4 linked regions of the Homo sapiens genome follow. The protein of the gene in region 2 interacts with the protein of the main gene of each other region in a biochemical or structural test. Each region holds a gene or a part of one and is shown on either strand. Other genes may lie near its edges.

Region 1 (3,598 bases), on a different chromosome or scaffold from region 2:
CCTTACCCAACCCTCTTTTCCTGAGTTCCCAGATACTGACAACCAGACCTCAACTCTCCAAGCAGAAAACTGGAAGATACTCTCTGGAAAATATGACTGGGACAAAAGGAAAGATAAATACAGTGGAGACAGCCTCAAACAATCCACCCAGATCAATTATTTCAATCTTGGCTACACACTGGAATTATCTTGGCAGCTTTAAAAAATACTGGTGCTAATCTTCGGAGATAGAAATCAGAATAGTGGTCACCTCTAGGCTGGGAGTGAGACAACAGAAGAAAGGGATATGAAGGAATTTTCTAGAATTTTTTGCCATGCTCTACATCTTATATCGGTTACATGGTAAAAATCAAACTATACACTTAAATTCTGTGCATTTTACTGTATGTAGCCACACCTAATTTTTTTAACTATCCCTACCTGGGACCTAGTCTCAGAGATTCTGACGTATTAGCAGCAGGGATTTTTTTTTTTAATTCTCCATGTGATTATAATGTGCAGCCGAAGCTGAGAATCACTGCTTTAGACTCTAGAATATAGGGTAAAACAACATGTCCTTAAGTCCTACTTACAAGTTCAGGACTTCCCATCAGCTTTCAGTAGCCCACTGTTAATCATGAACAGACAACCAAGGATTACCAGTCTTCCGAGGAGGGCCTCTACTAATAAGACTATACCAAATAGGAAAAAAAGTAACTTGGAAGAAACTATGCAAGGAAAAGAAGGTCTAGGCCAGGTGCAGTGCCTCACAGCTGTAGTCCTAGCACTTTGGGAGGCCAAGGTGGACGGATCACCTGAGGTAAGGAGTTCAAGACCAGCCTGGCCAACATGGTGAAAACCCGGCTCTACTAAAAATACAAAAATTAGCTGGGCATGATGGCAGATGCCTGTAATACCAGCTACTTGGAGGGCCGAGACGGGGAATCGCTTGTACCCGGAAGATGGTGGCTGCAGTGAGCCGAGATCACGCCACTGCACTCTAGCCTGGGTGGCTGAGACTCCGTCTCAAAAAAAAAAAAAGAAAGGCTTAAGAAAACGATTTTTAACATTCTCAGAGAGATAAGAACAGATATGGCACCCATGAAACAAGAAGAGATGGAGAAATAAGTGACTGAGTAGAGGAGGCTGAACCTACTGGCCTGCAAAAGGGAATACAATCAAGAAACAAGCTGAGGAGTCTCTCTGAGCCTATTCTGGCTCAGAAGAAGGCTGCCAGATAAAGTGATATAAAAATTTTTTTAATTTAAAAAATAAAAAGAAGCAAGCTGATTTGGCTAACTCACAGAATCACAGAAAGGCTCAGAATCTAGGAGCCTAGGAGTTCCCAGGTATAGGGTCAGTGGAGAGGCATGGGGCTAAAGAGAAAGTAAATGGTTTAAAGTTTATGTAAGGTACAGTTGGACTCTAGTCTAGGTTCCCTCCTCTGCCACCATTCCTATCTCATAAATTTATTTTCTAGAAACTCTGACCTGGTGATACGATTTGGCTCTGTGTCCCCACCCAAATCTCACCTTAAATTGTTAATAATCCCCACATGTCAAGGGCAGGACCAGGTGGAGATAAATGAATCAAAGGGGCAATTTCCCCCACCCTGTTATTGTGATAGTGAGTGAGTTCTCACGAGATCTGATGGTTTTACAGGGGGCTTCACCCTTTGCTGGGCATTCATTCGCTCTCCTGTTCCCCTGTGAAGAGGTGCTTTCCACCATGGTTGTAAGTTTCCTGATGCCTCCCCAGCCATATGGCACTGTAAGTCAATTACACCTCTTTTCTTTATAAATTACCCCGTCTTGGGTATTCTTCATAGCAGCATGAGAACAGACTAATACACCTGTGAGACTCCAGACTCAAGAAAAGTAAAGTAAGGCTCAAGGCTGAAAGCCAAGGGGTTAAACAGAAGTGTGTTTGATGAAAAGCAGCCCCTGCCCACAGCCCACTTTCTTTGCCCACCTCTCAAAGTTGGAGAGCTTATATTACCACATATCAAAGCTTATTATAAAGTTACATTAATACAGTGATATTAGTGCAAGGATGACAAATATACAAATAGAACAAAGTATCCAGAAACAGACCCACACTAATTTCATAAATTAGCTGACCATACTGTTATCTAATTTATGAAAAAAAGTGCCACACAGTGCAGATGGACAAGGATGGTATTTGCAATAAATGGTGCTGGATCAAACAGACGTCTATATAGAAAAAAGTGAATCTTGGCCCGGTGCAGTGGGTCATGCCTAAATCCCAGCACTTTGGGAGGTCAAAGCAGGTGGAGATCATGTTACTGCACTCCAGCCTGGGTGATACAGTGAGACCTTGTCTCAAAGAAAAAAAAAAGTAAATTTTTTTTTTTTTTTTTGAGACCGAGTCTCACTCTGTCGCCCAGGCTAGAGTGCAATGGCACAATCTCGGCTCACTGCAACCTCTGCCTCCTAGGTTCAAGCGATTCTCCTGCCTCAGCCTCCTGAGTAGCTGGGATTACAGGCACCCGCCACCACGCCCAGCTAATTTTTGTATTTTTAGTAGAGACAGGGTTTCGCCATGTTGGCTAGGCTGGTCTCAAACTCCTGACCTCATGATCCGCTCGCCTCGGCCTCCCAAAGTGCTGGGATTTCAGGCATGAGCCACCACGCCCGGCCTAAAAAGTGAATCTTGACCCCTGCGATTCATCAAGAATTTACTCTAAATTATATACCTTAAATGCAAAAAGTAGGGGATGGGTACAGTGGCTCACACCTGTAATCCCAGCACTTTGGGAAGCCGAAGAGGGCAGATTGCTTGAGCCCAAGAGTTTGAGACCAGCCTGGGTAATATGTTGAAACCCTGACTCTACAAAACATACAAAAATTAGCCAGGCATGGTGGCATATGCCTGTAGTCGTAGTCACAGCTACTCAGGAGGCTGAGGTGGGAGGAATGCTTGAGCACAGGAGGCGGAGGTTGCAGTGTTCTGAGACTGCACCACTGCACTTCAGACCCTGTCTGAAAAAAAAAAAAATTTTTTTTGCAAAAAGTAAAATAAAATTGCTATAAGACAACACAGAAAAATATGTTCATATTCTCAGGTTAGGCATTGATTTCTTAAATAGGACACAAAAAGCAGTAACCATAAAGGACAAGATTGATAAAGTATACTTCATTAAAATTAAGAATCTCAGGCTGGGTGCAGTGGTTCATGCCTGTAATCACAACACTTTGGGAGGCTGAGGCTGGTGTAGGTGTATGACTTGAGCCCAGGAGTTCGAGACCAGCCTATGCAACATGGCAAAACCCCATTTCCACTAAAGATACAAAAATTAGCTGGGCATGGTGGTGCTCATCTGTAGTTCCAGCTACTTGGGGGTTAAGGCAGGAGGAATACCTGAGTCTTGGGAGATCAAGATTGCAGTGAGCCGTGATCGTGCCACTGCACTCCAACCTGGGCAACAGAGTGAGATTCTGTCTCAAAAAAAAAAAAAAAAAAAAAAAAGGCCAGGCACGGTGGCTCACACCTGTAATCCCAGCACTTTAGGAGGCCGAGGTGGATGGATCATGAGGTCAAGAAATCAAGACCACCCTGGCCAACATGGTGAAGCCCTGTCTCTACTAAAAATACAAAA
Region 2 (5,124 bases):
AGATTTGTTTCCCTAGAATTACACACAGACACTAGCACATTCTTTCAAGGAAGAAAATGCACTGGAAATCCTTAATTGTGGCTTTCAATTCACTACTCACCATCTGTCTGTTTCTTAATTTTCAAGGTGACAGTCTCTCCTGCCATCTGTAACAAATGGATGGCTTCACTCAGAGGCTTCCCTTTCAAGCTGCTGCTATTGATGGCTAGGATTCGGTCTCCTATGTGGATTGCGCCAGTTCTGAAAAGCCAAATAGTAATAGGAGAGGTAGAAATAATCCCTGTATGGTACTGAATATAAATTCCCTGACATACCTTATACATTCATCATAATAAAGACTTGGTAAGGATCTCCAGAAGTCCCTTCTTGCTTTCTCCTGGGCAATGTTATAAGATAACTGCATCTGTTGTGGATTACTTTTTAGTTTCCAATAAAATTTTAAAAATTGTTTTAATTAGTTATTAAAATGAACTGTGTTTTTTAATTCCAAGAAAGCTGAGTCATTGGTTAAGCACCCTAAAAATCCCAAGAAAATGAACAATGTTGAATGACAAATGTAGTGGATAGCATGGAGCATCCTTTCTTTCTACAGATTTTTTTTTTTTTTTTTTTTTTTTTTTGAGACAGAGCCTCACTGTGTCACCCAGGCTGGAGTCCAGTGGCACGATCTTGGCTCACTGCAACCTCCGCATCCCGGGTTCAAGCAATTCTCCAGCCTCAGCCTCCCAAGTAGCTGGGATTACAGGCAAGCACCACCATCCCCAGCTAATTTTTCTATTTTTAGTAGAGATGAGGTTTCCCCATTGGCCAGGCTGGTCTTGAACTGACCTCGTGATCCATCTACCTCGGCCTCCCAAAGTTCTGGGATTACAGGTGTGAGCCACCGCACCTGGCCTGTATGAGCTAATTTCTAAGGTACACTGCAGCTCCAACATTTTGCAATGCTGTGTCTCTATTTTGCTAGCCACTGTTTTCAACTGTTAGCAGGAACAATGCATTTGTGTATTCCTGAGCTAGGTTACTGGAGGGCAGATTTGCTTATAGGGTTTGTTATATGTCCAACAACACATCTCAGAAAGAAATGCAGTTTAGCGGAGGGTGGGGAGTGGGTGTGTGTGTACATCATTGCCAAAGGAAAAAATGGACATTCCAGCTTTTAAGACATTATTAAAATGGGTTATACACTTTGTTTCCCATAATCCTTGAAGATGATGTCTGTATCATCCTTTTCTGAAAACACAGCAGCTAAGTGTGGCACCTGTCAGGTAACAGAGGCTCAGCAAGTGTTTGCTGAATGAAATTGGACAAGCTGTTCAACCTCCCTGAACTTTAGTTTCCTCCTCTCAAAATGGACACAATACAAATCCGCCTTCAGTCAATTGTGGTCAGCTTATACATTTCAGAGAGTAGTATCAATGCTAAGCCCAAGACGTCTTTTACTGCCTGTAAGATGCCCCTCAGAGTCAAGTCGGAACTCTGCCTGAGAGTTCTCAGGCTCTAAGATCAATCCTTTGTGCAGATTTTTAAAAGCCAACAGATAACCACAGAGAGAGGAGCATGTTTTTATGTGGTTGTGAGGAAGGAAGCCCGTCTCAGACACAGGTAATTATAACAGTTACTTCAAATTTTACCTTTCAGCTAATCCCCCTTTAGTGAGGCTTGAAATGATTATAGGATCAAACGGCTCTTCAGTTCCTGAAATTGTGATGCCAAGGGGCCCCCCGTAGCGTTTAAGCTCCACGGTGTAAATAATTGCTCCGGAACTTTCTTGCTCATCTGTAATAAATGCCAAGGAATCATAATTGATTTCTTTGGAAAAAGCAAAAGAGTAAGATGCATAGATTCATACATAAAAGAATTCAAAACATCCTCGTCAAAGTATCATGTCACAGAAAATAATTATTTTGGGAAGTAGCATTTCCTTAGTAGGATCTTACATTCAAATACAGGGATATAATCATTGTCAGTGCCAGGGGAGAGGAACACTGCCTAATGACTTATGTTTTAAATGTGTGAGATCCGCCCAGCTGGGGCTGCAGGACCTTTCAACTGTGTCCATGTCTAGGACAGTGCTTACCTAGCATTTAGTAAGTATGCAGTAAATATCTGTGAAATAAACATATGGCTGAGGAGGCATTATAATATGAGAGGAGAGAGTCACTCAGTAACAAAGAAGACAGACATTGGGTCACGCTGTTTCCGTTTTAAGCTTTACATGCATGCTAACTTTTGATATAGAAAAGTGGATTTTGCGAAGGGTTGGAACAAATAACATATATATGGTTAAGTGGAACTTAGATAAGTAAACTTGAAGACAACAGCAAGAAATCTAGAATCTCTTAGATATCATTCCACTGACTGTCTTCTAATGTGAGTCCTATCAGTGAATTACGGATATTAAAGTGGAGGTTTGAATGATCATCTCTCCTCTTTCAATGGAGTAACAGCTGTTGTAAGCTATGTTTCAACAGCATAGACCAGCCTGCCACACTGTCATAAACTAATTTTGGCTATTCAACATTATTATAGTTGAAGACACTTGTGAATGTGCTCTGCCTAAAGCACTGGCCAGAAAGATATCATGGGCCGCCTTCAACGTGATGGGTATTGTGATGGTGTCAGAGTTGCAAATAAGAAGTCTCAGAATTCAAAGGTTTTATTTGCTTCTGACATGCTTAAAGTTCTTGGGCACTTCTTGTTTTATTCCTTGGGCCTGGGAGCTGTGAATGGTTAAGGAACTGTTTCATTTCTGCAACTAAGGATAAAATGAAATGGTTCAGTGGCTACTTTAGCAAAATAGTCAGCTTTTACAGTCAGACTACATCCTAGTGAAGCATTAACATGGCCACATTTTTGCAGTGAGCAGCTGTTCGTTTACGATATGAAATCCTAAAATAAGGAGGAAAACCAAAGCTTGAGTTAACAATTCAATTATTTGTGTTTGCAGTGAAGAATTATGATGAATATAAAATGAAAGGTCTATCAAGTCATTTGGGAAGCAATGTGTCCTCTCTCGCCAGCACTTACTTCACTTCTGGCCATAGATTGGGAGTTTTGAATGCAGCCATTACCTCCACTTTCTGAGTGCTCTACTCAACGTATTTACTCCACACATTCAGAACTAAAGACCATCCACCACACACTGCAATGCTTAAGTCAACATTTTAGGGCACAAAATCTTCAACATTGGGCTCAAATTTACATTAGCAGCTGAGAAGCTCCCATATCAAGCCTAAAACAGCTCTGTTTGCTGGTTCACAAGTTTCTTCTGGGCTGATGCTGAAGTTGTGGCCAATAGGCTGGTGATGATCTGCTAAGGGCTCCAGAGAGAAACATCAAGATAGAGGGTAACCAAATAATCAGCAGAGGTCAAAAGTCTAAATTTTCCTACAGTACGATATTTTGTCACCTTTCAGAGCTGGCTTTGACCTAAATGAACAGAGTACTATTGGATAGATTACATGTACTTTGCAGCCCTCATCATCAACAATATCCTGGATGAAATTCTGAATGAGTCATTTGATTAGTAGTCCCTGGCACAGTTGAACATTAGTTACTGCTGGACACTCTGTGTGGGCCATTCAGTGGAGGTGTGTATGCCATAGGAAAGACCTTGACCCCTTATTGCTCTCTGCATAAGGCAAGCATGAGCACAAACTTGTCAATGGGTGCCAAGCATTTTGGGTTGGAGCATCTGCTCTTTATGGGTTTTGGGGAGAAGGACAGTTGCCCAGGACCTGGAGACCCAAGAACCAGTGGGAAGTGTCCATTGAAACTGCAGTCAAGATGAAAACAAACACTGGACTATGGAAGGGGAGTTGGGGGTAGTCCCATTCATTGGGAGAAGGGGGGCACCTGGTTCTACTCAGCTCATTCTGCAGAGTGAGTATTCCATGTTATTTTTTGACAATGTAACTTGAGACGCAAAGATGACAAAATAATACCAGAGATGAAGTGAATGGCTTTAGGATAGTCTGTTTCAGGCTGCCTTATTTGGAGACATTTTTTTATTGGCATCTGAGTCCTCACTGACTAGAAGGCAATTGTTAGGTCACCCAATGAGTTTAGATAGTGATGGAGATGCAAATCTGGGAAATGGTACCTCTTAACTAAGAAGGACACATTCCTGTGATTACATTGGGGTGGAAACAGGATGACATGATATTCTATTTAAATTATGACAGAAATGGAAGCTGATTTCTGTTTTCTTTAACAAATAAATTGCCAGAAACACAAAAGAGAAAGGAGATTTGGCCAGGTGCAGTGGCTCACACCTGTAATCCCAGCGCTTTGGGAGGCCAAGGTGGGTGGACCACCTGAGGTCAGGAGTTCAAGACCAGCCTGGCCAACGTGATGAATCCCCGTCTTAACTAAAAATACAAAAATTAGCCAGGCATGGTGCCTCGTGCCTGTAGTCCCAGCTATTTAGAAGGCTGAAGCAGGAGAATCACTTGAACCCAGGAAGTGGAAGTTGCAGTGAGCTGAGATCATGTCACTGCTCTCCAGCCTGGGCGATGGAGCGAGACTCTGTCTCAAAAAAAAAAAAAAAAAAAAAAAAGAGAAAAGGGAGATTTAAGAGACATTACAATCAAAAGCAATGAGTAGATCATTTGGGATTCTAATAAAACCAACTGTTATAAAAAGGTATCTATTGGCCAGGCGCAGTGGCTCACGGCTGTAATCCCAGCACTTTGGGAGGCCAAAGTAGGCGGATCACCTTAGGTCAGGAGTTTGAGATCACACTGGCCAACATGTCCAAAACCCCGTCTCTACTAAAAATACAAAAATTAGCCAAGTGTGGTGGCACGTGCCTGTAGTCCCACCTACTCAGGAGGCTGAGGCAGGAGAATCGCTTAAACCTGGGAGGTGGAGGTTGCAGTGAGCCAAGACTGTGCCACTGCACTCCAGGGTGAGTGACACAGCAAGACACCCTCTAAAAAAAAAAAAAAAGCTATGTGTTTTTCTATCAGATAGATTGCTTTAAAAAAACAGTTGGTTTTAATTAGGATTTTATATATATCAGGGAAATGTGAACATTGAGTGAATATTTTATAAGATTAAAAATATTGCTAATGATGATATTTAGTTATGTGTTTTGAAAGAGTATTTTTTAGGCATACGTTA
Region 3 (3,598 bases), on a different chromosome or scaffold from region 2:
GCCAATTAAACTATAACATACCATAAGGTATAAGACACAACTCTATTTCAGAAATGATAAAATGTGCATTTTTCATTGACAAATGATAAGATGTGCATTTTTCATTGACAAATGATAAGATGTGCATTTTTCATTGACAAATGATAAGATGTGCATTTTTCATTGACAAATGATAAAATGTGCACTTTAGAATTGATGTAACATATTACGTGTTTGCTCTTGCTTTACAAAAAGATTGGGAGGAGAACCTTAGCAGCAAAAGCAATTTATTTCCTTTTCTTTTTTCTTTCTTTTCTCCTTCCCCTCACCCAAATTTAAAATTCTACCAATGAAGATTTTTTTTTTTGACAGGCTCTTGCTGTAGCGCAGTGGGGCAGTCACAGCTCACTGCAGCCTCAACCTCCTGGGCTCAAGCAATCCTACGTCAGCCTTCCGAGTAGCTGGGAATACAGATGTCTGGGTTCAAATCCTGGCTCTACCACTAATTAGCAACCATAGGCAAGTTACTTATCTTCTCTGGGTCTCAATTCCCCATCTATAAAGAGAAACTGAGGAACAAGCCACCACAGCAGGCTAATTTTATTTTTAAGTAGAGACAGAGTCTTATTATGTTGCCCAAGCTGGCCATTGAAGATTCTTGTATTTAGGTTTTGTAGACTCCCAAGGGAGAATCCCAGGAGATGTTCTCCAAGAATGAAGACCATAAAGGAATAGGATGTAAGGGAAAGAGCAAAAACATGGAGGGGAGGTAGGAAGGATGCCCCTTCCAGAAGATTTGGTCTTGGTCTTCCTAACAATGAACTTGAGGAAAGCAAACATCACACATTCTTTTTTTTTTTTTCTTAAGACAGAGTCTTGCTCTGTCACCCAGGCTGAAGTGCAGTGGCATGATCTCGCCTCACTGCAACCTCCACCTTCCGGGTGCAAGTGACTCTCCTGCATCACCCTCCTGAGTAGCTGGGACTACAGGCATGAGCCACCAAGCCCGGCTAATTTTTTGTATTTTTAGTAGAGACAGAGTTTTGCTATGTTGGCCAGGCTGGTCTCAAACTCCTGACCTCGGGTATCTGCCTACCTCAGCCTCTCAAAGTGCTGGAATTACAGGAGTGAGTCACCGCACCTGGCCATAATCATCACACATTCTGACTAACCCCTCTCCCCCAAGCCCCTGTCCTCTCAGGCCAGCTTCTGGATGAGCTGGGCCTCTTCCTAAAGGCCCAGAATACCCCATGCCCCACCTCCTTGTTCAGTCGGTCCACAGTCCTGTCCAGCAAACGCTTCTGCTCCTCCAGCTCAGCCTTGCCTCGCCGGAGCACCTCCCGCTGCTTCCCTTCCTCCTCCAGGGCCCGGTTCAGTGTCTGCTGCTCCTGCCCCAGGCGGGCCAGCCCCCGCTGAGCCTCCTCTAGGCGTGCCTCCAGTGCCCGCTTGGCTGCTGCCAGACTCCCCTCCTCTTCCTGGGACGCATTCAGGGCCTCCTCCAGCTGCTGTTTCTCTGCCTGGGAGGTAGGGAAGCAGGGTTGGACTGAGAAAAGGTAAAACTTGGGTTCAAGTCATTTGGAGGTGGGTAGCTGGGCAGGAGAAAGGAGGTATTTATGAAAATGATGTGCAATGAAAACAGGCTCCTAGCAAAGAAATCAGGACACATAGAGCAAGCAAAGGGTGAGAAATAAGAAACAAAACTACCAGTGCAAAGACTGAACATTGGCGCCAAAGTATACACCAGGAAATAAACCCAAGGTTAACAGAGCAGGTTTGGGGAGGCAAAACAGATGCACACTAAGGGCAAAGTGAAACTGATGGCTAACTACTTAGCATAGGAGTATTTCACCAGGGCTGAGCAGAGAGGGCTGGGAGGGCAGAACCACTGACCTCCAGCCGCTGCAGCTTGTCCCGTAGTCGTGCCTCCACCGCTTCCCCACCATCCACCAGACCTCGAGTCTCCTTCAGCTGCTGCTCCAAACCCAGGATGCGCCGGCGGAATTCGTCATTTTCCTCCTGGGTCTCCCGAAGCGTCGTCTCCACTGCGGCCCGCCGCTGCCCCAGCACTGTTGCCTCTGCCTCGGCCACCATCTTAGCCTAAGGACGGTTCAGGGGGTGGCAGCTCAGACCCCAGGGCGTGGCAGCTCAGACCCCAGGGCTTGGGGCCATTGACCACACCCAGGAAAGCCATCCCAAAGACAGCCCATAAGAATGAGGCTTAAAGAGAGCAGCTGCCACCAGCCAGACGCTTCTCTGAGAATCCCACCCCTACACAGATACAGGTATCCTCCCCCTGCCAAATCCTGGCTTCTTTGAACCACATGCCTAGGACCCAGGAGCTGGTCAGTACATACCCATGACAGGTAACTTTCCACACCCTCTGGCTCCTCAGCCCTCCAGACACCCTCAGCCTCCACCTCCTAAGCCCTGTGCCCACTCCCCTTGCCTTGGAAGCCTCTTCACAGTCCTGTCGCAGTTGCTGGAGGGTCTTTTGTAGCTGGAGGTTCTGTTCTTCCAGCTCCCGACCTCGATCAGCCTCGACCCTCAGGACCGCCAGCTGCTTCTCCAACTCCCGGTCCCGGTGTCGCCCAGCCACCTCCTGGCTCTGCCGTTCTGCCTGCAGTTCCTTAAGCTCCTCCTGTGTCCGGAGCAGCTCCTGGAAGGAAACGGGAATGGTGATGGGGCACCCAGAGCCAGACTAAGATACCTGAATGTGGAGAAGCTGAAACTCTCATACACTGCCAAGGGAATAAAAACTGATGTGGCCACTTTGGAAAGTAGTTTGGCAGTTTCTCAAAAAGTTAAACACAGATTTACCATTTATATCACCAGCAATTCCACTCTTAGGTAACCCAAGAGAACCGAAAATATGTGTTCACAAAAAAACTTATACGCGAATGTTCATAGTAGCATTATTCATTATAGCCCAGATGGATACACAACCCAGATGTCCACGAATTGATGACTGGACTAAACACGGTATACCCACAGAGTGGAATGTTATTCAGCCATAAAAAGGAATGAAGTACTCATACTTGCTACCACATGGACAAACCTTGAAAACACTATGCTAGGTGAAAGAAGCCAGACCCTTAAGGCCCATATATTATAGGATTCAATTATATTAAATATCCAGAATAGGTAAATCCAGAGACAAAAAGTAGATTAGTGGTTGCCATTGGGTGGGGGGAATTATTGCTAATGGGTTTGGCGCCTTTGAGGGGGTAATGAAAATGTTCTGTAATTAAATAGTGATGATGGTTGTACAACTTTGTTAATATAATAAAAACCACTGGGGGCCAGGCGCCAGTGGCTCATGCCTGCAGTTTGGGAGGCTGAGGCGGGTGGATCACCTGAGGTCAGGAGTTCAAAACCAGCCTGGACAACATGGTGAAACCCTGTCTCTACCAAAAATACAAAAATTAGCCGGGCGTGGTGGTGTGTGCCTGTAATCCCAGCTGCTTGGGAAGCTGAGGCAGGAGAATGGCTTGAACCAGAAGGCAGAGGTTGCAGTGAGCCGAGATTGTGCCACTGCACTCCAGCTTGGGTAGCAGAGTAAGACTCCATCTCAAAAAGAAAAAAAAAACCCATTGGATTGTACACAAAGATGACTTTTATA
Region 4 (3,598 bases), on a different chromosome or scaffold from region 2:
AGGCTAGTTGCTGTCTACTACTGCCACTGTTGTGCTATATTACTCAGGGTAACAAAATGCTCTTCCATTTTTCCTACCATGGATTGTCAAATAGCACAGTGAAGTAGTTAGTGTTTTAATTACTTTGTAGAGGAGATAAGCTCAGAAGGGTTAAAAACCTTGCTCAAGGTCTAAAACCTTGTAAGGTCTGATCATTACTACCTAGACCCACCATCCCACTCCAGCAATGACCGCCTGTGCTAACTGTATTATCGCACAAAGGTGGTAATGCTTGGAGTGGACATTCATCTGCTCTTTTACCTGCGTGACATCGCTGCTGCTTGTCTTCCTTTAGACAACTGCTCTGCCTCCCTCTAAAAACCCACATAGTGTTGGAATGGGCTGCCAATCACAGTAGCCCATCACCTTACCCTGGGGTTCCACTGCTGGGCACAGTGCCAAAGCTGAGCCAGTCTTAGTCCTCTAGCCCTGGCCACAGTGACCGGGCCTCATGTGGACACATAACACTGGCCAGACCAATCAGAATCCTACCATGAGGTTTGTCTGCCTGGGCTGATTGGATAGAGCTCCCTTTCTTCCCTGGTCAGGGGCTGTGAACCTGAACAGAGGGGCCTGAGGTCATGTTCAGACCCGTGGGAAAAGCCCACAGCATCGATCCAAGAGGTCAAACGTCCCAAAGGCCAGTTTCCACCATCCATCCAAAGGTTGTGGAATATTCTAAGTCAATACATTTCTCTTTTTCTACCTAAGATGATCTGAGCTAAGTTTCTGTCATTTTGCAATAAAGGTACCCTGAAATGATACACAGATAAAATCTGCCCTTCACTTAAAAACCTCTTCTCAACCATTAATTTCAAATGACTCTGCCACTTCCTCTTAAATAACACAATTAAAACCACCTAAATTAGCCATGCAGGGTGGCATGCGCCTGTAATCTTAGCTACTAAGGAGGCTGAGGCAGGAGGATGGCTTGAGCCCAGGAGTTTGAGGCTGCAGTGAGCTATGATTGCACCACTGCACTCCACTGTCTCTAAAAAATAAGTAAATAAACAAACAAAAGAACCAAAAGAAAAACCACAACAGCTGGAGCTTTTACTTATGTCCCTTGCCCTGCTGACCCTCCAGGGCAGAGGGGATGAAGAAAAGGTGGCTGGTACCCGAAGGAAGTGGAGAGAGAACAAAAGGCCAGGCAACCTCTGCTGAATAATAAATAACCCACACCTGACAATCAGCACCCATCTGCATTAGTCCCACTAGAAAAGCCTGGCAGGGTTATTCCCTTGGGGAAAAAAAACAAACTTCCAGCTCTAATTTCTGACAGTGTACAATGCCTAAATTCAAACCTCCCACTCAGCCTAGCCATTAAGGTCCTCCAGATTACCTCTGCATCCCCAATTCCCTTCCACCCAGAGCCAAGGCCAAACCCCTGCTCTGCTCAGGCTGGGTAAACACATGGCTCCTCTCTATGGCTCAGCCTGTGCGGTCCAGCCTACGCAGCCCACACGTCCTCCCTCCATGGCTCCATGCATTCAGAGCTTCACTTCAACACCAAGTCCCAGCACATTCGTGAAGCTCTCCTCGGCTTCTCCAGCGGACGCTGCTGGCTCCATTCTCTTAAGTTTGATGAAGCAAGCCAGCCAGTTCACTAGGAAAGTAAAGAGGAGGCACAGGAGGTGTGGGGAGTGGGAACGAGAAGGAAACATCAGGCAATGAGCACGCGAGAGGTCCAGCCAAGTTCTGCCATTTCTGCCTCCCAATAGAGGCCTGGTGGGAATGACTTGAGGAGTCCCACATTTAGATGGTAATGAGAGCCACTAAAGGTGAATGAGAGTATCTGGGGAAAGTGTGTAGCATACCGAGTTTTTTATAAAAGAAAAAGCCTGTTTGTGCATCTCTATCAGTTGACCTGTCTCATAATGTCACTCTCATGAGCGTCCCATTCCCCCAACAAGGCGGCAAGCTACGGACTAGAATTACATCCTGTGCACCCCGGCCCCTGTCTACACCCCAGCCCCACCTGGGCCAGGCACTTCAATGCTCCCGGTGACAGAGGCAGGCAGTGCAGCACCATTAGCCCCATCTTACAGATGAAGATACTGAGGCTCACCCCAGGGGCAGGGAGTTGAGAATCCTCAAGGGAAAAAACTCAGGTGTTTCCCCAAATCAAAGGGAAAAAACAAAGGACTGCATGGGGCTCCAAGTGACCAAGCTAGACTTGGTTACTGGGAAAAACAAGAGACCCAACTGAGCCACTCAGAAGTAAACAATTCTGTCTTCTCCCTACCACCAGCTGGGGCAAAGGTGTTCGCTTGTTCCCCGCAGATCCATGTATCAAATCCGGGACAAAAGAAAGCTACATAATTTCAGAGTCCCACAGTGACTGGAAATGTCCTGAAATTGTAGTGGGAAGGCCTAACCAGGGAACAGGAAAAACCACCCCAGACAAGGAATCAGGGGCACTGGGCTTGGCCTTGACTCAGGCACCTTTCTGCCCTGCGACTTCTTCCTTACAGACAGGGCCCTGGAACCAAAGATCATAAGACACCACTCATCTCCCTGGGGCTGCCACAGAGTTAATGAGATATGAAGATAGGACACAAAATCCTGAATGACAATGCCCTATCAATACCGGAATAAGAGCCACACCTCCAACAAAAAAACCACAACACAGTGTGTCTCCTAGTCACTCCACACCCCCAGGCCTGAGCGTGGTAGGTTTAAATGTCTGGGGATCTAACTCAGCAAGAGTTGCCCCGATGGGTTGGGTTTGCTCACCTGCCCACCAACACCCAGGCACATGTCCTCCCCAGTTTCCTTCCAGTTCCAGGCCCCACGTGGTAGGCTGCTGCCGATGCAGACTCCCTCAGCACCCAAGTGCCAGTGGGGGATGGGCATTCTGGATCAGGAGCCCACACAGGGTGTGGAATCCATCAAGGAAGCTCCTAGGTGGGTGATGGCATCATCTCCAACAGAGAATCGGTGCCAAAGCAGCCACCCCTTGACGCTAAGGATCCCAGGGAGCCAGCTGGTTCCTCTCTCAGGCTCCGCAATGGCCTCGAACTGAGGCCAATTCAAACCCAGAGCTGCTGCCCAGAGCACAGAGTGGAAATCACTCAGGAGTGGAAGGAGGCAGGACCAAGTGCTGGGTTTTCCTGACTATGGCTCCTCAAGGAAGAAGACTTCCATTCCTTCAGCCAGAGCCGCTCTCTTATGCACTGAGCTTTGACCATAAGGAATACTTCCTGGCTAAAAGAAAAAAAAGCAAAAAAGTGGAGACCTACAACACAGCAATTTACCCTTCACAAAGGAGCCTCCCCTGCGCCGGGGCAGTGGCTCACGCCTGTAATCCCAACACTTTTGGGAGGCTGAGGCAAGCAGATCGCTTGAGCTCAGGAGTTCGAGACCATCCTAGACAACATGGAGAAATGCCATCTCTACACAATATACAAAAATTAGCTGGTGTGGTGGCATGTGCCTGTGGTCCCAGCTACTTGCGGGGCTGAGGCAGGAGGATGGCTTGAGACCAGGAGGCGGAGGCTGCAGTGAGCCGAGATTGTGCCACTGCACTCCAGCCTGGGTGACACAGTGAGACCCTGTC

The links.
Region 1: the proteins of GRIP1 (region 2) and EVI5 interact in a test that uses a peptide from one of them, tested with the Homo sapiens proteins (one large-scale study listed by IntAct).
Region 3: the proteins of GRIP1 (region 2) and CGN interact in a test that uses a peptide from one of them, tested with the Homo sapiens proteins (one large-scale study listed by IntAct).
Region 4: the proteins of GRIP1 (region 2) and DLG5 interact in a test that uses a peptide from one of them, tested with the Homo sapiens proteins (one large-scale study listed by IntAct).

Annotation. Positions count from the first base shown.
Region 1 is NC_000001.11:92,778,511-92,782,108, forward strand, and holds part of EVI5 (ecotropic viral integration site 5 protein homolog), read right to left. Parts: intron 1-3,598. UniProt on the Homo sapiens protein: Functions as a regulator of cell cycle progression by stabilizing the FBXO5 protein and promoting cyclin-A accumulation during interphase. May play a role in cytokinesis.
Region 2 is NC_000012.12:66,392,577-66,397,700, forward strand, and holds part of GRIP1 (glutamate receptor-interacting protein 1), read right to left. Parts: intron 1,777-5,124; coding exon 1,632-1,776; intron 241-1,631; coding exon 101-240; intron 1-100. UniProt on the Homo sapiens protein: May play a role as a localized scaffold for the assembly of a multiprotein signaling complex and as mediator of the trafficking of its binding partners at specific subcellular location in neurons.
Region 3 is NC_000001.11:151,528,387-151,531,984, reverse strand, and holds part of CGN (cingulin), read right to left. Parts: intron 2,636-3,598; coding exon 2,426-2,635; exon of another isoform or gene 2,421-2,425; intron 2,077-2,420; coding exon 1,870-2,076; intron 1,497-1,869; coding exon 1,239-1,496; intron 1-1,238. UniProt on the Homo sapiens protein: Probably plays a role in the formation and regulation of the tight junction (TJ) paracellular permeability barrier.
Region 4 is NC_000010.11:77,920,158-77,923,755, forward strand, and holds part of DLG5 (disks large homolog 5), read right to left. Parts: intron 1-3,598. UniProt on the Homo sapiens protein: Acts as a regulator of the Hippo signaling pathway.